Linked DNA regions of Homo sapiens: region 1 is linked to region 2. The links come from fine-mapping of genetic effects on gene expression. A gene starts in region 2. The other region holds a variant in brackets. All regions are shown on one strand. Distances are from middle to middle.

Region 1 (8,000 bases), 30 kb before region 2:
GTGTATTTCCAGTTCGGTGTCTGTCTGGGCGGGTGGAGCTGACCCTCCCCTGGGTGTGCTACTGAGGGCAGGGACTGTGGCTCATTCACCATTGTATTCCCAACCTCAGCAAGAGTGCCTAGCAAACAGGAAACACATATTTGTTGAATGAGAATCTCCCTAACGGACTTTCTGGATAATTTCGGAGGAGTTTCGGGGAGTTTCGGGAGGGTTCCTGGGAAGAAGCTCCTCCCAGGATGTCTTTGATTTTCCGTCTGAGGGTCTGTGAGTGAGGGATGACATTCCTCCGTGTGCAGCCGTTGCTGTCCTGGATTAGTTTTGCCCCCAGCGTGTCTGTGTGACGTCTTCCTCCGGGGACTTATGTGCATCCTCACGCGCCAGGCGAGCCCAGAGCGGGACAGCTGTCTCTCTGGGTTTGCTGTCTGTGACAGTGTTTCCCGTAGGGGTGTCCTATCTCCCTGGCTGTATCTGGATTCCTGAAGAGGTGTCTGTTTTCCCTCGGGTGTCCCTGCAAGTGTGTGTGCATTCTAAGATTATGACTCAGTAAGGGGGTCTGCTTCTGTCCCTCCGTGGCTAGTCTGTCTGCATGACAGGGACAGCCCCTGTCTGGGAGTTTGTCCCTACACCTTCAGTCATGTTTCTGGGGGGCCTGCACATTGCGTGTTTGCACAGGTGTGCTGCATGGACCGTCGCCCTGGCGTGTTTCTAAGAATGTCTTTTTCTGGCCAGGCGCAGTGGCTCATGCATATAATCCCAGCACTTCGTGAGGCCGAGGCGGGTGGATCACCTGAGGTCAGCAGTTCGAGACCAGCCTGACCAATATGGTGAAACCCTGTCTCTACTAAAAATACAAAACTTAGCCGGGTTTGGTGGTGAGCGCATATAGTCCCAGCTACTCAGGAGGCTGAGGCAGGATAATTGCTTGAACCCGGGAGGCGGAGGTTGCGGTGAGCTGAGATTGCGCCACTACACTTCAGCCTGGGCGACAGAGCGAGACTCCATCTCAAAAAAAAAAAAAAAGAATGTCCCTTTCCAGGTGTCATCTGGCTTCGTTCAGTCTATCTTGGCTGGTGCCACTGTCCTCCTGGGTGTGTGTCTTGGTGACAATGGGTTTGAGCGTGCAGGGTTACCATCCAGGTGAGTGTCTGGATTCTGATGCATCTCTGCAACAGAATTTCTCAGCACAGGGAGTGTCTGTGGCTGTGGATCCTGCCAGCTGTGGCTCTGACAGGAGGGGTCTCTGGCCCTATCTCCAGGACCCAGGGGTCTCTCTGTCCCAGGAAGCATGGCTCTGTTAACAGTCCCGGCCGCGCTCTAGGTGTGTGGCCCTGCAGTTGTGAGTTTGACCCAGTTTCCATCACTGGGTGATGGTCTGGCTTTGTGCTTTTCCTCTTTGGCTCCGTGCCTTGGGGCCGGATTGTGTTTCTGGGGGTGGGAGCTCTTGGTTTCTGTCTCTTTGAAGTTTGCATGCCTGACTCTAGGTGTGCGTCTTTCTCAGGAGCTGGAGCCCAGGGCAGCTTCCTCGGGTCTATTCGTGAGGACCCTACCCAGGCCTCTACTTTCTAGGAACCCCGAGCAAAGTCCTCAACCCCCCAACTCTGCTGCCTTCACCTACCCCGACACCCCAAATCCAGACCCCAGTCTGAGGCCACGAGGGGAAGGCCAACCCTCATCTCCCCTCAGCCAGGCAGGTCTGCATCCCTCCCAGGTCGGCGGCGCAGCCTCCCCCAGTGCAGCCCCAAGTCCTGAAGGGCAGAACTCCAGGGGAGCGGACCCAGGTCTCCACACACGGCCCCCAAGACCCACTCACCTCGGACAAAGATGACCTGCTCAGCGCGGCCCATGCCCACGGCATTGGTGACTGTGCAGACGAAGGTGGTATTGAACAGACTGTCCACTGCGTGGATGACCAGCTGGGAGCCCTGGGCCACTGCGGAGGTCGGGAAGGTGCCTGAGGTCCTGGAGGGGTGTGGGGTCAGGTGAGAGGGATACCAAGGTCGAGAGGGGAGCACAGGCCTCATCCCTAAAGATACACCCACCAGGAGCCAAGCTCCAGGGACCTAAGTACTCCCGGAGACCCCAAATTGCCAAAATGCAAGCTCCCTTCATCCTGGAGGACTTAGGAATTTAGGCCCAGCCCCTCCTCCCTCAGATCCAGGAGTCCAGGCCCCCAGCCCCTCCTCCCTTAGATCCAGGAGTCCAGGCCCCCAGCCCCGCCTCCCTCAGACCCAGGGTTCTGAGACCACGTGACTCACGTGCTCCAGTCATAGCCCGTGGGCTCTGGGTTGCTGCGGACGTCACAGCTCAGGGTGGCATCAGTACGGCCGAGGTACCAGTTGTCATCATAGCCGGAGATGGACACTTCAGGAGGGTCTGGGGGAAATGGGGGGACTGGATCAGCAAGGAGGAGAATCCCAGAGCGGGTGGACAAGTTAGCAGATAGACAGGAATGCTAAAGAAACGGGGCGGGTTGGCAGGAGGTACAGCAGTCAAAACTGTCTGGGGCAAATCAGTCCAGGCTGTTGTGTGCTGATGTCAGTGTAGACACTGTTCAGGGAAACCACTGTGGATAATTTTGTGGGAGTTATTGTTCAGTGCTGGCAGTGCCTAAGGGAGCCACTACAAATAATGTGTGTGTGTGTGTGTGTGTGTTTTTGAGACAGGATCTTGCTCTGTTGCCCAGGATGGAGAGCAGTGGGGTGATCCTGGTTTACTGCAAACTCCACGTCCTGGGCTCAAGCCATCCCTCCGCCTCAGCCTCCCAAATGGCTGGGATTACAGGCATGTACCACCACGTCCAGCTAATTTTGGTATTTTTAGTACAGACAGGGTTTCACCATGTTGCCCAGGCTAGTCCCGAACTCCTGACCTCAAGTGATCTGCCCGCCTTGGCCTCCCAAAGTGCTGGGATTGCAGGTGTGAGCCACCGCACCCGGCCTGTGTGTGTGTTTTTGGCATGGAGGGAGGATGTCAAAACAGGGTTTGGGCAACCAGTGTAGGTCCCGGGAGGAAAGTGGCACAGACGAGGCTCAGGGGAGCTGTTGCACTTATGGGCGCACGTGATGCATGTTGCCTGGGGGAGCTGGTGTAGACTTGGCTTAGGGAATCTGTGTAAGTGGAGGCATTGCCTGGGGAGCTAGTGTAGACAACATTGAGTTGGGATATGTGGTCATTTTGGACAGTGGTGGAAGAGGTGGTTAAGCCAGTATTTGAGGGATTCTGTGTGAA[G/C]AGTGCCAGGGTGGCCTCTCTGGGTAACATTACGAGGTGTGAGTATAGGCAGTTTCTGGAAGAGCTAGCAAAAAACCCAGTGGGAGGGGTCAGGATCAACAGGGCCCGGGGGGTGGAGCCTGTAATGTAATATATAATATAATGTAATTATATTATATTAAATAACAATAATAAATAATGACAAAATATATGTTAATATATAATATATAATTTATATATTTTATATAATATATAATATATAAAAATATAATAATAAATAATAAATAATAAATACAATGTAAATAATATCAAGGATCAGGGGTCGGTGTAGAGACTCTGGGAGACTCAGTATAGATGGCACCTAGGGAAGTCAAGGCAGAAGTATGGGAAGGTGTGGAGACGATGTTAGGTTGGGCAGTGTAGACATGTAGACATGTGGACATGGCCCAGCATGATTGATCTAACGGTCCAGGGGCAGTGTCAACCGGGGTCCATGGGAGCCAGAAAAGACACTGTTGGGGGCAGCTCTTTGCTGGTAAACCAACTCTCTGGGGAATAAAAGAAGCCCCCATTTCTAGGGTTTGCCAATTTCCTTGGTGTAAATATTCCCCAAGGTTGATTTCAAGCTACCGAGAAGACTTCATTGGATGTGGAATTGGAAAGAAATGTATCAAACTGGCTCTTGCAAGCCCATCCCAGGTTACCACAGACTAGGCACAGCATGCAGGAACCCAGTAAAGCCAATGTAGACAATGAGGGGGAAGTATGTAGATTTGCCCATGGGAGCCAGTGTAGACAATGGCAGGAAGGTAGTGCAGAATTTGGCTTCAGGGAACCCACGTAGACAACATTCAGAGACAATGTAGACAGTGCTTTAGAGAAGCCAGTGTAGGCAGTTTTGATGGGGGAGGGGTCACCCCCGATACACTCACAGCGTACAGAGAGGGTCACAGGTATCAGGGCTGGTTCCTCGAAGCTCTCATGCTCCACTTTGCAGGTGACCGTGACACCATCTGCTCGGCCCGAGGGCACCAAGGTGAAGCGGCTGGTGACAGTGACAGTTCCGGCCAGGGTCCCTGACACCTGAGTCTCTTTGGCTTCCCAGTCCAGGGATGAGAGCCAGGAGATCCGGGCAGGTGGGCGGCCCTCTTTGGAGATGCAGAGGGCCACTGTCGTAGGGTCCTGGCTGAACGTGACCTTCTGGGCCTCAGCTTGGTTCTTGGGCTTGGCTGGGGAGAGGAGGAGAGGGGGTGCGTCACTCCTCACCGGCAGTCATTCAACAAACACTCAGCAGAGGAGCAGGGTGGTTAGGCCCTAACTGCCGGGGTTCCAATCCCAGCTCTGCTGCTTATCAGCGGCCTGGCTTGGGATAAGTGGTTTTGCAACTCTGTAGCTGTTTCTTGTTTTGTAAAATGGGGATAATGAAAGTACCCACCCCTAGGATTGCTGTGTGAATTAAATAATACATTGATAGGTAAATGGCTTAGGGTAATGTCTGGCCTGCACTGCCCTATCCAAGTGTTGCCCATTTTATTTTACTTTATTTATTTTTTAGAGACAGGGGCCCGCTCTGTCACCTGGTCTCGAGTGCAGTGGTGTGATCATAGCTTGCTGCAGCCTGCACCTCCTAGGCTCAAGTGATCCTCCCGCCTTGGCCTCCAGAGTAGCTAGGACCATAGGCATGCACCACCATGCCCGGCTAATTTTTAAATTTTTTTGTAGAGATGAGTTCTTGCTATGTTGCCCAGGCTGATCTCAAACTCCTGAGCACAAGCCATCTTCCCACCTCGGCTCCCCAAAGCTCTGAGGTTACAGGCGCCTGGCCTGGCCATTTCGGTATACTGTCTCTTCGCCCTGCCAGAGATGCAGAGACAGGGTCCAAAAGCCTAGAGGAGGCTGAGATTTAAAAAAAAGCTGGTCGGGCGTGGTGGTTCACACCTGCAATACCAGCACTTTAGGAGGCTGAGGAGGGTGGATCACTTGAGGCCAGGAATTTGAGACCAGTCTGGCCAACATGGTGAAAACTCATCTCTACTGAAAATACAAAAATTAGGATGGGCGCAGTGGCTCATGCCTGTAATCCCAGCACTTTGGGAGGCCCAGGTGGGCAGATCACCTGAGGTCAGGAGTTCTAGACTAGCGTGGCCAACGTGGTGAAACCCCATCTCTACTAAAAATGCAAAAATTAGCTGGGCGTGGTGGCAGGTGCCTGTAATCCCAGGTACTCGGGAGGCTGAGGTAAGAGAATTGCTTGAACCTGGGAGGCAGAGGTTGTAGTGAGCCGAGATCGTGCCACTGCACTCCAGCCTGGGTGACAGTGAGACTCTGTCTCCAAAAGAAAAAAAAAAAAAAGGAAAAAAAAAAAGCAAATCAAGGCCGAGCGAGTAACTGAGTACTGTGGTTCAAAGGTCCAGCTGGAAAGGCCCCCTGTTCCTTTTCCTGTAATCACCATTAGATGATTGAATGACTGGAAGTGTGATAAAGGCAGAAAATCTCAAAGCCGTTTCTTTTTTTTATACCCTTTCCACCTCATTCTCTTGGAAAACATGGAAAAAAATCACAAAAACAAAACTCCAGGAAGAATAGCAGCTCATGCTTATGATGTGTGTCCCCCACCCAGACTCACATCTTCTGTTGCTTTCTGGACCTGGGTATCCACCTCTGAACTTCTCAACACGGTCTGACTCTCCTCTTCTTCCCAGCTCTCCCTTCCCACCGCCTTCTCCCCTGACCATCGTGGAGCATCCAACAAGCCTCCCCACATCCTCCTGGCCGCCCTCCAAGCTGTTAGAATAGTGACTCAGGGCCCGAGCCCACCACTTCCCCATGGCCACCTCCCCTGGCCACTCCACATGCTCCCCATCCACGCCCTCCTCAGTCTCTGCCTCCACCCACTTTGGGGTTTTGGTTGGTGATTTTGTGCCTGGATTGCTTTGGCCTCCTTCTCCAGACCCCACTCCAAGCCCCACTTCGTCAAGGGCACTTTCCTGACCGCCGACTCTGGCCAACTATTCCTTGGTGGCTCACGCATCATGAAGACAGAGGCTTTGGCTGTTTTGTTCCTTACTTCTGCACCAGTGTGTATACGGAAGCTCTTGAGGTTATCTCTCTCTCTCTCTTTTTTTTTTATTAATTTGAGACAGAGTCTTGCTGTCACCCAGGATGCAGTGCAGTGGTGCAATCTCAGCTTACTGCAACCTGCCCTTGCTGGTTTCAGCAATTCGCCTGCCTTAGCCTCCTGAGTAGCTGGGATTACAGGTGTGCGCCACCATTCCTAGCTAATTTTTATTTGTAGTTTTGGAGACCCTCTCTCCAAGAAACAAACAAACAAACAAAAGCTCACTTGCAAGAGCTGCTTGCCTTGGCCCCTGCTTGAAGTGTATATTCAGGGCAACTTCAATCTATGCTCCCAGGTGGTCATCCTCAAGCTTTGGGCTTGATTAAACCCTACACTTAATCATATTTTCTTTTCTTTTTTTTTTTTTTTTTGAGATGGAGTCTCGCTCTGTCGCCCAGGCTGGAGTGCAGTGATGCGATCTCGGCTCACTGCAAGCTCCGCCTCCTGGGTTCATGCCATTCTCCTGCCTCAGCCTCCCAAGTAGCTGGGACTACAGGCACCCGCCACCACGCCCGGCTAATTTTTTTGTATTTTTAGTAGAGACAGGGTTTCACCGTGTTAGCCAGGATGGTCTCAATCTCCTGACCTCGTGATCCGCCTGCCTCGGCCTCCCAAAGTGCTGGGATTACAGGCGTGAGCCACTGCGCCTGGCCCTTAATCATATTTTCTGAGTCTCATTATTTATTTATTTATTTTGAGACAGAGTTTTGCTCTTGTTGCCTCTCAGCCTCCCAAAGTGCTGGGATTACAGGTGTGAGCCACCGTGCCCAGCCCTGAAGTTATCTCTGGATGAGAACAAATGATTGCACAAGAAGAGAGGCGTTTGTGAGGGTGGGGAGGAGAAGAGCTGTCCTTTGTATTATGGAAAACGGCTGTGGTTTCATGTGTTACTGGAAAGGGAAGTGTTTACTCAAGGATAGCACAGGGTGACCTTCTCAGACGCTCTGGGCTGAGAAGGGGGAAGAAAAGGCATCCAGAGTGACGTGGCTTCTGGGAAGTTGCCTAGGGAAGGTGGGCTCCCAGGGGACTTCCAACATATTTTTTTTTTTTTCCAGACAGAGTCTCACTCTGTCGCCCAGGCTGGAGTATAGTGGCGCGATCTCGGCTCACTGCAAGCTCCGCCTCCCGGGTTCAAGCCATTCTCCTGCCTCAATCTCCCGAGTAGCTGGGACTAAGGCACCCGCCACCACGCCTGGCTAATTTCTTGTATTTTTAGTAGAGATGGGGTTTCACCGTGTTAGCCAGGATGGTCTCGATTTCCTGACCTCGTGATCCGCCCGCCTCGGCCTCCCAAAGTGCTGGGATTACAGGAGTGAGCCACCACGCCCAGCCTCAAGATTTAAAGAAAGAGCATTCGTAGCTGGATGTGGTGACTCATGCCTGTAATCCCAGCTATGCAGGAGGCGGAGGTAGGAGGATCCCCTGAGCCCAGGAGTTCGAGTCTAGCCTGGACAATGTAGTGAGACTTTGTCTCAAAAAAAGAAAAAAAAAAAAAAAGAAAAAGGAAAAGAAAAAAAAGCATCCTTCAAAAAAAATCTTCCCTGCCTTCTCTATTTTTGCCAAGTATCAGTCACCTTCCCGCTGGGAGTCCTATTTTTTTTTTTTTTTTTTTGAGACAGGGTCTCGTGCTGGAGTGCAGTGGTGCAATCTTGGCTCACTTGCAATCTCTGCTTCC
Region 2 (15,580 bases):
CATACAATCTACCCATTTAAAGTGTACAGTTCAGTGGCTTTTGTATATTCAGAGTTAGCCATCCATCACCCGAGCAATTATAGAACATTTTCATTAGCCTGAGAAGATACCCTGTCCCCGTTAGTCACTCTCTTCCTCTTTCCTCTGTATGTCTGACATCTCCGGTCTCTTTCTCCGTCTGGGTCTCCCTGTGTCTGGAACCTGGCTCTCTGCCTTGATTCCTGGGGTTCTCTTCTCACAAGCCTTCTGGTCTACGTCTCTGTTTCTGTCTCTGACTGTGGAGTCTCCCTGCCTCCTGGGTCTCCAGTGCCCTGTCTCCCCATATTTCTGACACACCTTCTCACAGCCTGGCCCATCTTGCTGGGTCCCCTCTTCTCCTCCCCTTCCTGCTCCATTTGTCAGCACTGCTGGGACATTAAAAATGTAACAGCGTCCCAGGCAGGGGCGGGGGAGCTGGCCCATGTGCCCAGCTCCCTGTCCCTTCTGTGTTCATCACTCCCTGTGGCCCCCACATGTCGCTGGCCTTGAGGCCCCCTGTACCCTGACCTCCGTGGGTCACGGCACCTCTGCTGTCCCACAGCTGGAGTCTTTGGGGCTCCCTGCCTGTCACCAAACCCCTTTCCTTTTCCTGTCCCTGCCTTCATCTGGTATCTATGTCTAGCTCCCTTCCCCCACCCTCCTCCGTCCCATTCCAGTGTCTTTCAGCCTCATCCCTGTGTCGGTATTTCACTCCCCCGACCCTGTGCCGGCATTTCACTCCCCTTCTATCCTCTGATTCCATTCCTACACGTGTCTCTGACCCCATTCCTAAATCTGTGTCTGACCGCTTCCCTCTATTGGCCTCTGTACCCATCCTTGTAGCTCCAGCCTCTCTATATACCCACCCCCCAACTTCTCCTCTGCCCAGTCCCCCTTCCCTAATGAGAGGAGACAGCCAGGCTGCCGTCCCTCTGCTCCCCTCCCCCTCCACTACGTGGGGCTGCCTGGCGGACATGGACACACGGATGGGCAGGGAAGAAAGCTGGGGGAGGGGAGCCGGCCCAGCTGGGGGCCCAGGTGGTGCACCCGCATTCCCCGAGGAGGCCAAGCGGGGGAGGCAGTGGAGCTAGACAGGTATACAGAGAAAGACGGAGAGGAGAGAGAGAGATGGGGAGAGGAGAAGAGAGAAAGAGCTTGGAGAGGGATGGAGAGAGAAAGGGTGAGAAACGAAGAGAGATGAAGAGGGGGAAAGAAAGTGAGGGAAGGAGGAAAACAGGGAGGGGGAGGGGAGAGAGAGAGAGAGGGAGAGCGAGCACATGCCAGCCGGCCAGCCAGTGGACAGCAGAGGCGAAGGATTGGGGTGGGGGTGGTCAAGAAAGGGGCCGACAGCTCCTTCTCCAGGGGCTAAGAGGTTTCACAGGGAATCAGTGGGGCCTGGGAGCCTTCCGGATGGTCCGCAGGGAAAGGATTGTTATCTCAGTTTTTTTACGAGGGAGGAAATGGAAACTCAGAGGCACTTCCTGGAGCCCACCCGGTGCGGGGCTCTGAAGAACCGGAGCCCGGCTTCCCCGGGACCTGCTGTGAGACCTTGAGAAGGCTGCTTGCCTTTGCTGAGCCTGTTTCCTCATCTCTAAGATGGAAACAGAAACAGGACCTGTTTCCCAGGGCAAGCTGGAGCCTTCGGTGAGATCATGCACCAAGCTAACAGTAGGCTCAGGGTCTGGTGGGTTCGGAGAATTCACCCAGAGGTGCCAGTTCTGATCTCATCTGCCTATTTCTGCCTGAAGGGAGAGGCAGGGGATGGAAGCGGAGTTCCCAGCTCTGGGTCAAAGCTGGGAGGCCAGTGAGAGCCATCCTGGGGGAAATGAGGCCAGAGAGGTGGCCGGGGTTCCCCCAAGATCCCCCTGAGCTCTCTTCTGCGCAAACCCTCGGGAAACTCTAGCATCCCAGAGTTTGTCGCTGGGAATACACAACCGGGTCACCTGCAAGGGGCGGGGCCAGCGCCTCTTTCAAGGGTTCCCTCCCAGCCCCTCCCTCCCCAGGGGGGCCGCTCTCCTCCCCTAGTGGGGTGGATGGAAGGACGCCAGGGGGTCCAAGGCATAGCAATGGGAGGGACGGGGGATAAGGGCGGCGGCTCCACTCGTCCACCTCCTGCTATGGCTCTGAGGACAAAGGCGCTACCAGAGGATAGATAAGGTCCCGAAACCGGGGAGTCCGGAACCCGGAGCCAGGAGCGCCCGCCCCGCCCCTCCCTGGCTCGGCGAGAGTGAAACCAGGAAAACTTCCCCGGCGACGTCTCCGTCGCCCCCGACCATTCATAGGGAAAGGGAGGAGTCTCCCAGCCTCTGGGACTCGGGGCCTCCCGTTCTATCTGGGACTCAGGCGACTGAGACTCCAGCCTCAAGACAGAGCCTTCGACCCTTGATCATATCTGGAGCCCAAGAGACGGGGCCCGCTGCTCGCACTTCTGTTTGGATCTCAGAAGACGTTCCTCTGCCTACAATTAAGTCTGAAGCCCACGAGATCGAGTCTCCTGTCCCCCGGTTCTGCCGGGAACCCTGAAAACGAAGCCCCCTGCCCACAATTAAATCCAGAAGCTACAAGTTTGATCCTCTCTCGCCCCCAGTTTTACCTAGATCCCAGTTAGACTTAGCGCCTAGCCTCCATTCTACCAGGGACCCTGAAGACGGAGCCCCCGGCCCCTAATTTTTCTGGAGTCCACGGAGTCAGAACCCCCAACTCCCTGAGGTTCGGGGTTGGAGCTCCGAGCTCAGGCCCTTCCCCCTAAGTCGCCAGAACTCTTATCCTTAGCCCTCCAAGGGACCCGAATCAGGTCCGCTTGTCCTCAGTTCTCTCCGGGCCTCAGACGCCCAAGCCGGGAAGAAGGAAAAATAGGGGAGGGAGGTGGTCTCGCCTCTTCCTCGAGACCTTACTGCGGTAGGTGGGGGGAACATTCCCCACATTCCTGAGAGGGGTAGAGGAGACAGAGACCCAGATCCGGGTGAACTACTCGGCGCGGGGTGGGGAGGGGGCACCAGGCCTTCCTGGGATTTAACCCTTTCGGCGCGGGAATCCGAGAAATGGGGAGGGGGACAGACAAGCAGGCGTAGGATGGGCAATTGGATTAAGAAGGATGGGGGTGGTGGTGAGAGAGATGCAGAAAGGAGGGGTCAGAGTCTCCTCGAGAGAATCGGACGTGTAGGGGGTCGGAGTCTGTGGGGCCAGCCAGGAAGGGGGCACGCGAGAGGGGGCTCGGGGAGCCGGGGGTGGGCGGGGAAGGTGCTCGGCTTCCCCAGCTCGGAAGGTAAGGTTGGAGGGGGTCCGCGCGAGGGCAGGGGGCCGTCCGCTCGTCTCACCGGTTTCCAGGAGCAGCAGCAGCAGCAGCGGCCACAGCAGCGGCGTCGGCGGCGATCTCGACGGCAGGAGGGCAGCGGCCCGGGCCATGGAGGGCCCGGGAGGGGACTGGGCCCGGCCGGAGGCCCGCGGGCCACTCTGTGGGGGCCGATCGGCTGGGCGGTTTAGTAGGTGCCTGTGGGGCTCCGGCTCCGGCTCCGGGCCGGTTCCCGCTGCGCTCTAGCCTCCCTGTTCTGCTCTCCCGGCCCAGCTCTCCCCGCCCGGCTCGGCACCCCCGGCCTCTCGCTCAGCTCCGGCGGTTCGAACCCGCTGACGTCACAGGATCCACCCGCTGCTCCCCCGAGTCAAGCCGACCCTGGCTCCGGCCCCGCCCCCTCCTGGCGTTCTGACCCCGCCCCCCGGATTCCACCCCTGTTCCTCCCCGGGATTCCATTCTCGCTCCTCCCCAGGATTCTAAGGTCGCCCCTGCCAAAGAATTCTGTCTCCTTCGCTCCCGGCGTTAAACCACGCCCCCTAAGGTCTAGCCACGCCCCCTCTGCTCCCGAGTAGTTCCCACGCCCCGCCCCCTGCCTACCGGCCGCCTCGCCAAGGTCTTGCCACGCCCCTTTCGGCCCTTCCGGCCGACTCCGCCCCCACCAGCCCCGCCTCCACCAGCCCCGCCCCTCGCCCTAGCCGGAGTTCTCTCGGTCTCTTAGCTCAGTCCGTCCTGGCCTCTGTCCCACCCACAGTTCGAATCCTGCCCTTTCCTGCCTGCCCGGGTCCTCTCATCACAGTTGCCTGAGGCACGTGGGGCTTTACGGTTCTGCCCCCAGCACGTCCCGGTTGTGCGACCTCCCCGCAGGTCGAGCCCATCGCCCTGAGCCTGTTTCTCGTACCCTCGTGCGTTTCTAATCTCTGCCCCGAACTCTAGGTGTCGCTGCACTCGTTTCTTTCTGGATTTCTCTGTCTCTCTTACGTGTCTTTGTGTCTCTCTCACTCTCTTTGGGTCTTCCTCTCTGTCCCTGTATTTCTGCCTCTCTGGGTCTTTCCGTCCTCATGCTTCGGTGTCGCTCTGTTTCTGGTCTTCCTTTGTCAGTCACTGTTTCTTTATTTCAATAAAAGAGACGGGGCGGGGGGGCGGCGGGGTCTCACTATGTTGCTGAGGCTGGCCTCAAGCGATCCTCCCGGCTCGGCCTCCCAAGATGCTGGGATTACAGGCGTGAGCCACCAAGCCCGGCCTGTCTGTCACTGTTTCTGGGTCACTTGGTCCCCATGTCTCTTTCCATCCTTTGACTCTGTCTCTGTGTCTCTCTGTCTCTATCTGTGTGCCTCTCTGTCTCTGTCTCTATTTCTGTGTATCTCTGTCTCTATCGGCCTGTCTCTGTGCCTCTCTGTCTCTGTGTGCCTCTCTGTCTCTGTGTTTCTCTGTCTCTATCTCTGTGCCTCTCTATCTCTGTGCTTCTCTGTCTCTGTCTCTCCGTGTGTCTCTCTCTGTCTCTATCTGTGTCTCTCTGTCCCTGTCTCTTTCTCTGTGTCTCCCTCTCGGCGTCTCTTGTCTCTGCGTGCGAGTCTCTCTCGCTGTCTCTCTGTCCCTGCTCTGTTCTCTGCTTCCTTCCCTCCCTACCTCCCTGCGCGCCCTGGTCCTCCCCTCCCAACACCTGCTCCGCGCCGCCTTCTCACCGCAGCCACCCGCCAGGGGGCAGCAGAGACCGGCCCCCGCGCTGCGCTGGCCCGGCCGGGCTGGGTGGGGCTGGGCTCCAGTCCGGCCTCCGGACCTGGTCACTCCCCGCGTCCTTGTCCCACTTCCCCTATCTCCCCAGCCTCCTCGCGTCTTTGTGTCTCTCGCTCAGACTCGGGCCCTTTGTCTCTCCCAGCGGCTCGCCCTCCTCCCTACCCCCACCTACCTCTTCGCATTCTTTGGGCTGCCCAGGGGGAGCTGGTGAGGCCGCGCCGGGGGGCGGGATGAGGGCGCGAAGCGGGAGGCCGGGGGAGGGGGTGCCACGGAGCGCCAGTCTGGGCCCAAGTTCGTCCAGGGCCAGGAGGCGCGGAGCTGCTCAGCTGGGGGCAGGTGCTTGGGGGCTTCTTGCCCTAGCAAGAGGACCACCTAGGCTCGCCCTCCCTTCCACCTGCCACACACCTGGGCTTTCCTCCCCAGAAGGACTAGGTTTCAAGTAGCAGAGGCTGTTATCCCTCCGCATTCGAGTCTTAGTTATGATCCTTTTTTTTTTTTTTTCTTTGAGACGGAGTCTCGCTCTGTCGCCCAGGCTGGAGGGCAGTGGCGCGATCTCGGCTCACTGCAACCTCTGCCTCCTGGGTTCAAGCGATTCTCCTGAGTCAGCCTCCTGAGTAGCTGGGATTACAGGCGCGCGCCACCACGCCCGGCTAATTTTTGTATTTTTAGTAGAGACGGGGTTTCACCATGTTGGTCAGGCTGGTCTCAAACTCCTGACCTCCTGATCCACCCGCTTCAGCCTCCCAAAATGCTGGGATTGCAGGTGTGAGCCACCGCGCCCGGCACTTACGATACTGTTAATACATGTAGTCAGCACTTACCGTGTGCCAGGCACTGATCTAAGTGCACTGCGAATATTATCTCATGTAAGCCATGCAGCGCCATGGGCGATAGGGAAACTGAAGCAGAGAGATGAAGTGACTCACTGAGTTACAAAATGGCAGAGCCAGGGCGGGGCGCCCTGGCTGACGCCTGTAATCCCAGCACTTTGGGAGGCTGAGGCGGGTGGATCACTTGAGTTCAGGAGTTCGAGACCAGCCTGGCCGACATGGTGAAACCCTGTCTCTACTTGGGAGGCTGAGGCAGGAGAATCGCTTGAACCCGGGAGTTGGAGGTTGCAGTGAGCCGAGATCGCACCACTGCACTCCAGCCTGGGCAACAGAGTGAGACTCAGTCTGAAAAACATAAAATAAAATAGAAATTAAAAATAAATAAAAATAAACAAAATGGCAGAGCCAGAGCTGACTCTTCTAAGCACCTTATTTCTCTTAGTTAGTTCCTCACAGGGATCCCATGAAGGGGACACCATGGTGATCCCCATTTCACTGAAAAGTAAACTGAGGCACAGGGTGGTTGTTTGCCCCAAGCCACCCAGCAAAGACACATAGCAGGCCGGGTGCTTCTTTTGGGCCCGGATGGTCTGTGCTCTTTTTGTTTTTGAGACGGAGTCTGGCTCTGTTGCCAAGGCTGGAGTGCAGTGGCGCAATCAATCTCGGCTCGCTGCAACCTCCGCCCCCCAGGTTTGAGTGATTCTCCTGCCTCAGCCTCCTGAGTAGCTGGGATTACAGGCACGCACCACCACGCCCGGCTAATTTTTGTATTTTTAGTAGTGACGGGCTTTCACCATGTTGGTCAGGCTGGTCTCGAACTCCTGACCTTGTGATCTGCCTGCATTAGCCTCCCAAAGTGCTGGGATTACAGGGGTGAGCTACTGCACCCGGCCAGTCTGTGCTTTTAACCTCCATGCCATGTGAGCTCCAGATAGCTTGTGTCTCAGGCTTGGCACAAACTGGGTGTGAGGATGGCTGGACAAATAGGCGCACACATAATAAATGCATAGCAGCTACAGCTACTCGGGAGGCCGAGGTGGGAGGATCACCTGAGCCCAGGGAGGTTGAGGCTGCAGTGAGCTGTGATTGAGCCACTGCACTCCAGCCTGGGAGACAGAGAGATTTTGTCTCTAAAATAAATAAATACACAAATAGGCCTTGCGCAGTGGCTCATGTCTGCAATCCCAGCACTTTGGGAGGCCAAGGCTGGCAGATCACTTGAATTTAGGGGTTCAAGACACGCCTGGCAACATGGTAGAGCCCCGTCTCTTAAAATATATATAATAATAAAATAAAACAGTAAAATAAATAAATGTGCTTAATTTATTTATGTATTTAATTTTGAGGCAGGGTTGTGCTTTGTCGCCCAGGTTGGAGTGCAGATCTTGGCTCCCTCTAACCTCAAACTTCCCAGCCCAAGGGATCCTCTGCCTCAGCCTCCTGAGTAGCTGGGACTACAGGCATGTGCCACTATGCTCGGTGCATTTTTTTTTTTTGAGACAGTCTCTGCTCTGTCGCCCAGGCTGGAGTGCAGTGGCGCGATCTTGGCTCAGTGCAAGCTCCGCCTCCCAGGTTCATGCCATTCTCCTGCCTCAGCCTCTCGAGTAGCTGGGACTACAGGTGCCTGCCACCACGCCCAGCTGATTTTTTGTATTTTTAGTAGAGACGAGGTTTCATGGTCTTAGCCAGGATGGTCTCGATCTCCTGACCTCGTGCTCCACCTGCCTCGGCCTCCCAAAGTGCTGGGATTACAGGCGTGAGCCACTGTGCCCGGCTGCTCGGTGCATTTTTAAATGTTTTGTAGAATTTGATTCTCGCTTTGTTGCCCAGGCTGGTCTTGAACTCCTGCCCTCAAGTGATCCTCTCACCTCAGCCTCCCAAAGTGCTGGGATTACAGGTGTGAGCCATCGCGCCTGGCAATAAATGTGCTTTAGATCTCTCTGACCTTCTCTCCCCAATCTGAGGCCAGGTTTGTGGACCAGGACCTCTGGGTTTTAGTGCCAGCCTTGCTACTAACTTGCTTTGCAAAATCCTGGGACCCCCGTTTATCCATTGAACAAAAGAACCAGTCCCCAGGAAGTCTTCTTCTAGGAAGGCCTCTAGCACCTCCTTTCTCCTGGCCTACGAATGAGTGGGCTTAGCTCTCTCCTGGCTGTTCTTTGTGAGCAGGGATGAGCCCAGGAAGAAAGCCCCAGGAGGCTGGCCATGGTGGCTCAAGCCTGTAATCCCAGTACTTTGGGAGGCCGAGACAGATGGATCACCTGAGGTCAGGAGTTTGAGACCAGCTTGGCCTACGTGGTGAAACCCTGTCTCTACTGAAAATACAAAAATTAGCAGGATGTGGTGGCGGGTGCCTATAATCCCAGCTACTTGGGAGACTGAAGCCGGAGAATCGCTTGAACCCGGGAGGTGGAGGTTGCAGTGAGCCAAGATTGTGCCACTGCACTCCAGCCTGGGTGACAGCAAGGCTCTGCCAAAAAAAAAAGGAAAAAAAAAAAAAGAAAGAAAAAAATGCCCCAGAGGTGTAGGCTGGAGTTTCACACCCTTGGGTCACAAGCATGAGGCTGAGCACCAAGTTTGGTGACAAATGACTGGGTGGGTTCCACGCCCGCCTGGGGAGTTGACTTTTAGTGTCAAGGAGTCCCAGAGGTGGCACTTCACTGAAGAGCCATAACCACTAGAAGGTAGGGGCATAGGTAGGGGCAAAGGCTTCCTGACGGAGCTATGGAGCTGATGCCAAGTATTTTACCTGCCTGGCAACCTTTCCTTTCTTTTAGCAGCAGCAGCAGCTCCCCTAACCACTTCCTCCCCTCAGTCTTTTTTTTTTTTTTTTAATTAAGACAGGGTCTCACTCTGTCGCTCAGGCTGGAGTGTGGTGACATTACCATGGCTCACTGCAGCCATGACCTCCCTGGCTCGGGATCCTTCCATGTCAACTTCCCGAGTAGCTGGGACTACAGGCATGTGCCACTATGCTTGGCTAATTTTTCTATTTTTTTGTAGAGATGGGTTTTTGGGTTGTTGCCGAGGCTGGTCTTGAACTCTTGGGCTCAAGCAATTTGCCTGCCTCGGCCTCCCAGAGTGCTGGAATCACAAACGTGAGCCACCATACCCGGCTCTTATTCTGAGACAGGGTCATGCTCTGTTGGCCAGACTGGAGTGCAGTGGTACAATCATGGCTCATTGAAGCTTCCACCTCTCAGGCTCAAGCAATCCTCCCACTTCAGCCTCCCAAGTGGCTGGGACTATAGGCATTCGCCACTGTGCCAGAATAATCTTTTTTTTTTTTTTTGAAACGGAGTCTTGCTCTGTTGCCCAGGCTGGAGTGCAGTGGAGCGATCTTGGCTCACTGCAAGCTCTGCCTCCTGGGTTCACGCCGTTCTCCTGCCTCAGCCTCCCGAGTAGCTGGGACTACAGGCGCCCGCCACCATGCCCAGCTAATTTCTTGTATTTTTAGTAGAGATGGGGTTTCACCTTGTTAGCCAGGATGGTCTCAATCTCCTGACCTTGTGATCTGCCCGCCTCGGACTCCCAAAGTGCTGGGATTACAGGCGTGAGCCACCGCACCCGGCCAATCTTTTTTTTTTTTTTTTTTTTTCTGATACGGAGTGTCAGTCTGTTGCCCAGGCTGGAATGCAGTGGTGTGATTTTGGCTCACTGCAACCTCTGCCCCCTGGGTTCAAGTGATTCTCCTGCCTCAGCCTCCCAAGTAGCTGGGACTACAGGTTTGGGCCACGACGCCTGGCTATGTTCGCAGTTTTATTAGAGACGGGGTTTCACAATATTACCAGGCTGGTCTTGAACTCCTGACCTAAAGTGGTCTGCCCTCCTCTGCCTCCCAAAGTGCTGGGATTACAGTCGTGAGCCACCGTGCTCGGCCTGCCAGACTCATCTTTTGACTTTTTTGTAGAGACAGGCTCTCACTAGGTTGCTCAGGCTGGTCTTGAACTCCTAGGCTCAAGCAATTTTCCTGCCTTGGCCTCCCAAACTGCTGGGATTACAAGCATGAGACATGACTCCTGGTATACATATATATATATATGAGACTATATATATATGTATAGACTATATATATATATATATGTATGAGACTATGTGTGTGTGTGTGTGTGTGTGTGTGTGTGTGTGTATATATATATATATATATATATATATATATATATATATATATAGTCATTTGCAATCAAATATAACCTTACTAATAAACTATATACCCCAAAAAATCTGTACATGTCTGGGAGATGCACAGAGCTTTGTAAATTTCCAAGGGCAGGGCAAGGAGGGGCTGGTGGTGAAAGCTTTCAGAATTCTTCAGGATGTCCAGGCTTTGAAGAATAGGCAAGCTTTGTCACAGCACGGGATATGGGGAAGGGCATTCCAGGTAGGAGGGTGGTGACAGCGGGAGCAGGGGATGTGAGGGTCAGTATCTTAGAAGGTCCAGAATGCCAGCTGAAGGGCGGCTCATGCTCTGGGAACCACAGAAGGTTAAAGAGCAAGGGTAGTTTACTACCAACTTCTCTTTACTTCCTGGAGCCCCAGATCCTGAGGTTCACCCCTCCCACTTTCCTATTGCCCTAGGCCTTTGTAATGTAGGCTGGAGTTTCAACCCTTGGGAGGAGGGGTCATACTGATGTGGCCCCAGGCTGCCATCTCTATGCAAATTCCCTGGGATGCCATGCAGATGAGGGACCTTATGCAAATGTATTCCCTCCTGGTGGGGCAGGCTGGGATCCTCCACTCATTAACTTGGGGACCAGGTACTGGATGGAGAACCCTTTCCTCTTCTCTTTCCCTTCCCACTAGCCATCTGTTCACTCGCCATCCAACTCACCAAACCCCAACACCAATGTCTGCCTTTAGAGTGGTATCTCTGTATCTGGTCCCTGCCCTGGACTAAGGGAGTGTTTGTATTTTATTTATTTTATTTTATTATATTTTATTTTACTTTTGAGATGGAGTCTCGCTCTGTTGCCCAGGCTAGAGTGCAGTGGCGCGATCTCGGCTCACTGCAAGCTCCGCCTCCCGGGTTCACGCCATTCTCCTGCCTCAGCCTCCCGAGTAGCTGGGACTACAGGCGTCTGCCACCATGCTGGCTAATATTTTGTATTTTTAGTAGAGACAGGGTTTCACCGTGTTAGCCAGGATGGTCTCGATCTCCTGACCTCGTGATCCGCCCGCCTGGCCTCCCAAAGTGTTGGGATTACAGGCGTGAGCCACTGCGCCCAGCCTATTTGTTTATTTATTTATTTATTTTTGAGACGAAGTCTCGCTCTTGTCCCCCCAGGCTAGCGTACAATGGTGTGATCTCGGCTCACTGCAACCTCCGCCTCCCGGGTTCAAGCGATTCTCCTGCCTGAGCCTCCCGAGTAGCTGGGATTACAGGTGCCTGCCACCACGCCCAGCTAATTTTTGTATTTTTAGTAGAGACGGGGTTTCTACTAAATCATGTTTGCCAGGCTGGTCTCGAACCCCTCACCTCAGGTGATCTGCCTGCCTCGGCCTCCCAAAGTTCTGGGATTACAGGCGTGAGCCACCGCACCTGGCCTTTATTTTTTTTTTTTTGAGACAGAGTGTCGCCCTGTCACCCAGGCTGGAGTGCAGTGGTGTGATCTCGGCTCGCTGCCACCTCCGCCTCCTGGGTTCAAGTGATCCTTGTGTCTCAGCCTCCTGAGTAGCTGGGATTACAGGCGCGTGCCACCATGCCCAGCTAATTTTTGTCTTTTTTTTTTTGTAGAGACAAGGTTTCACCATGTTGGCCAGGCTGGTCTCGAACTCATGACTTCAGGTGATCTGCCTGCCTCGGCCTCCCAAAGTGCTGGGATTACAGGTGTGAGCCACCGCACCTGGCCTAAGGCAACCTTTTTGCTTTTCTCTGTGTCTCTTTATTTTTCCTTAGATAATCACAATAATTAACATGTACTGCACATGGACTCTGTGCCAGGCTTTGTACTAAATACTTCCCTGGTTATCTCATCAAATTCTCCCCTCCATCCTCTGATCCTCTGTGTGCATTTGCTGTATTTTTTTAAAGGGAATTTTCAATTCTGTTATATAGGGAACAAGAGCCCTATAAATAAGGACACAGACAGGTGAAATGAAGGATGGATATTAAGAAGCAACTCAAGCCGGGCGTGGTGGCTCACACCTGTAATCCCAGCACTTTGGGAGGCTGAGGCAGGCGGATCATGAGGTCAGGAGATCGAGACCATCCTGGCGAACACGGTGAAATCTTGTCTCTACTAAAAATACAAAAAATTAGCCAGGCGTGGTGGCACCCGCCGGTAATCCCAGCTACTCGGAAGGCTGAGGCAGGAGAATCAGTTGAACCCGGGAGGCGGAGGTTGCAGTGAGCTGAGATCGCGCCACTGCACTCCAGCCTGGGCAACTGAGCAAGACTCCGTCTCAAAAAAAAAAAAAAAGCAACTCATGAGACCTGTTAGACATACTAAGAATGTGAGCTGAACACAGATGGGAGGGATGCAGGGATCCAGTAAGCTCCAAGCATTCATGCGTCCTGTGGGCGACACCCACTCTGCTCCATGAGTCCCAAGCCCAAGACACAGGTAAAAGCTGTGGCTGCCAAGCAGGTGATCAGCCAGCTACAGTCATCTAGCTTCTCATGTTTATTTTTGTTGTTGTTTTGAGACGGAGTCTCGCCCTGTTGCCCAGGCTGGAGTGCAGTGGCGTGATCTTGGCTCACTGCAAACTCCGCCTCCCGGGTTCAAGTGATTCTCATGCCTCAGCATCCCCAGTAGCTAGCATTACAGGTGTGCCCCCCTACCCCTGGCTAATTTTTGTATTTTTAGTAGAGATGGGGTTTCACCATGTTGGCCAGGCTGGTTGAGAACTCCTGACCTCAAGTGATCTGCTTGCCTCGACCTCCCAAAGTGCTGGGACTACTGTTATTTTATTTTTTGAGACAGGATCTCGCTCTGTTGCCCTGGCTGGAATGCAGTGGCTGGATCACGGCTCACTGCAGCCTCAGCCTCCCAGGCTCAAGGGATCCCCCTACCTCAGCCTCCCGAGTAGCTGGGACTACAGGCGTGTACCGCCACATCAGGCTAATTTTTGCATTTTTTGTAGAGACAGAGTCTCTGTTTGTTGCCAGGGCTGGTCTCGAACTCCTGGGCTCAAGTGATCCTCCTGCCTTGGCCTTCCAAAGTGCTGGGATTACAGGCCTGAGCCACAGCGCCCAGCCTGTTTTATTTTTTGAGTTTTGCACAACATCTTTTGTTTTAATCAAATCTCTTTGTTTTACTCCCATAGATTTGGCTTCAAAATTGAAGATCTAGATTCCATGTCCAGAGAAAGAGAGAACCTGATGAGTCTTGAGAACAAGACCAGGGACAAGATCTCTGAGCTGGAGTTCAAGGTCAACAGCCCACTTTGGTTAACAAGAGGCACCTCCTGGCTGTCCAGTGCTTCCTCGTGGAGGAGTCAACTGCTTCTCTTGGGAGGTGGAGGGTGTTCCCATCCAAGTGCCTCCTCAGGCCCTAGAGAGTCAGGGATTGGTTGCAGTTCCTGAAGTCTCTTCCTAGGTCTGTGGACCTTCTAAGGAATTCCACTGACCACTTTCCCCACTGGAGTCCAGCAACACCATTAGGATGTGAATTATTATTATTATTATTATGTCTTGGAGACAGGATCTTGCTCTGTCTCCCAGCCTGGAGTACAGTAATGCCATCATAGCTCGCTGCAGCTTTGACTTTCTGGACTTGAGCGATCCTCCCACTCTGAGTAGTGGGGACTGCAGGTGTGTGCCACCATGTTTGGCTAATTTAAAAATTTTTTTGTAGAGATGGGATCTTGCTGTGTTGCCCAGGCTGGTCTTGAATTCCTGACCTCAAGTGATTTTCCCGCCTTGAGCTCCCAAAGTGCTGGGATTACAGGCGTGAGCCACTGTGCCTGGTGGGTTGTGAAGTTTGTTCATTGATGTCTCCCCAGTGCCTGGCACACAGTAAACACTCAATACACTTTTTATTTTTTTGAGACGGAGTCTCGCTCTGTTACCCAGGCTGGAGTGTAGTGACTCGATCTCAGCTCACTGCAACCTCCGCCTCCAAGTTTCAAGTGATTCTCCTGCCTCAGCCTCCCGAGTAGCTGTGACTACAGGCATGCACCACAATGCCAGGCTAATTTTTGTATTTTTAGTAGAGATGGGGTTTCACCATGTTAGCCAGGCTGGTCTCGAACTCTTGACCTCAGGTGATCAGCCAGCCTTGGCTTCCCAAACTGTTGGGATTACAGGCGCGAGCCACCACGCCCTCTGAACTTTTCTTGAAGGTATGATTGCGTGAATGGAGGAATGAATCCTCAGGTGTGTTTTGCCAGGGGCTGGCCAGGCATGGCTTTCCCAGTAGGTGCTCTATTGCATTGGAAAGGTGGAACAGGCTTGACTTCCATGTTTGTGAATATAAACTGGCCTCTTAGGTCTTTCTTTCCTCCAGTCTTTCCTCCTCAGGCATAGATGGTAAACAAAATGTCACCAACCTCACCAGCAAAGTGCTCATTTCCCTGGGGCCAGAACATGATGTACACAGACACAAATTTAGCATATTTGATATCATGATATCATGCCCACCTGGTGGGGTCAGCTGGGTGGGCTGCCCACCTGGGCCCCAAACCTCTCTCGCACTCTTCCTGGGAATCTATCCTTTTGCTGAGACTGCAGGCTATGCCTCTTGGAGGTGGTAAACAGAACTTCAAGGGGCAGAGACAGGTACATGAGGCACCACACAGACCCACTGACCCAGTCTGGCTCCAGGGTTAAACAGATCTTGAGACAATGAAAATAAACTTAGCAATAATCAAAGCTTTAAAGTAAAAGCTTCTATATATATGTGTGTGTGTGTGCGCGTGTATATACACATATATATGTATGTATTTATTTATACATATATAAATATATATGCGTGTATATATGTACATATAAATATATAAAATTAAAGAGATGTGGGAGGCCGGGCGCGGTGGCTTACACCTGTAATCCCAGCACTTTGGGAGGCCGAGGCGGGTGGATCACAAGGTGAGGAGATCGAGACCATCCTGGCTGACACGGTGAAACTCCGTCTCTACTAAAAATATAAAAAATTAGCCAGGCGTGGTGACGGGTGCCTGTAGTCCCAGCTACTTGGGAGGCTGAGGCAGGAGAATAGCGTGAACCCGGGAGGCAGAGCTTGCAGTGAGCCGAGATCGCCCCACTGCACTCCAGCCTGGGCGACAGAGTGAGACTCCGTCTCAAAAAAAAAAAAAAAAAAAAAGAGAGATGTGGGAGGTCGGGCGTGGTGTCTCATGCCTGTAATCCTAACACTTTGGGAGGCCAAGGCAGAAGGATGGCTTGAGCTCAGGAATTCAAGACCAGCCTGGGAAACATAGTGAGATCCCATCTCTACAAAAATAAAAAATTAGCCTGGCGTGGTGGCACATGCCTGTGGTCCCAGCTACTCGGGAGGCTGAGGCAGAAGGACTACTTAGCCCTGGGAGGTTAAGGTTGCAGTGAGCAGTGATTGCACCACTGCACTACAGCCTGGATGACAGAGCGAGACCTTGTCTCTAAATAAATAAATAAGGCTGGGCGAGGTGGCTCATGCCTGTGATCCCAGCACTTTGGGAGGCCGAGGTGGGCAGATCACCTGGGGTCGGGAGTTTGACACCAGCCTGGCCAACATGGTGAAACCTTGTCTCTACTAAAAATACAAAAATTAGC

The links. PIP is the estimated chance that this variant, and not a neighbour inherited with it, causes the effect.
Region 1: its variant is fine-mapped to the expression of NECTIN2 in whole blood (INTERVAL, PIP above 0.99).

What each region holds. Positions count from the first base shown.
Region 1 is chr19:44,868,289-44,876,288 of GRCh38, reverse strand. NECTIN2 (nectin cell adhesion molecule 2) reads right to left here. Exons shown (of 9, transcript NM_001042724.2): 3 at 4,140-4,436; 4 at 2,256-2,373; 5 at 1,811-1,959. Among named protein-coding and RNA genes, the nearest start is that of TOMM40, 19 kb to the left of the region's middle. The variant G/C (reference allele first, on the strand shown) is at 3,229.
Region 2 is chr19:44,834,369-44,849,948 of GRCh38, reverse strand. NECTIN2 (nectin cell adhesion molecule 2) reads right to left here and starts at 3,652. Exons shown (of 9, transcript NM_001042724.2): 1 at 3,336-3,652. The coding sequence starts at 3,423. RefSeq lists an enhancer at 960-1,942 and silencers at 3,582-3,681, 3,812-3,891, 3,972-4,021, 4,889-5,288.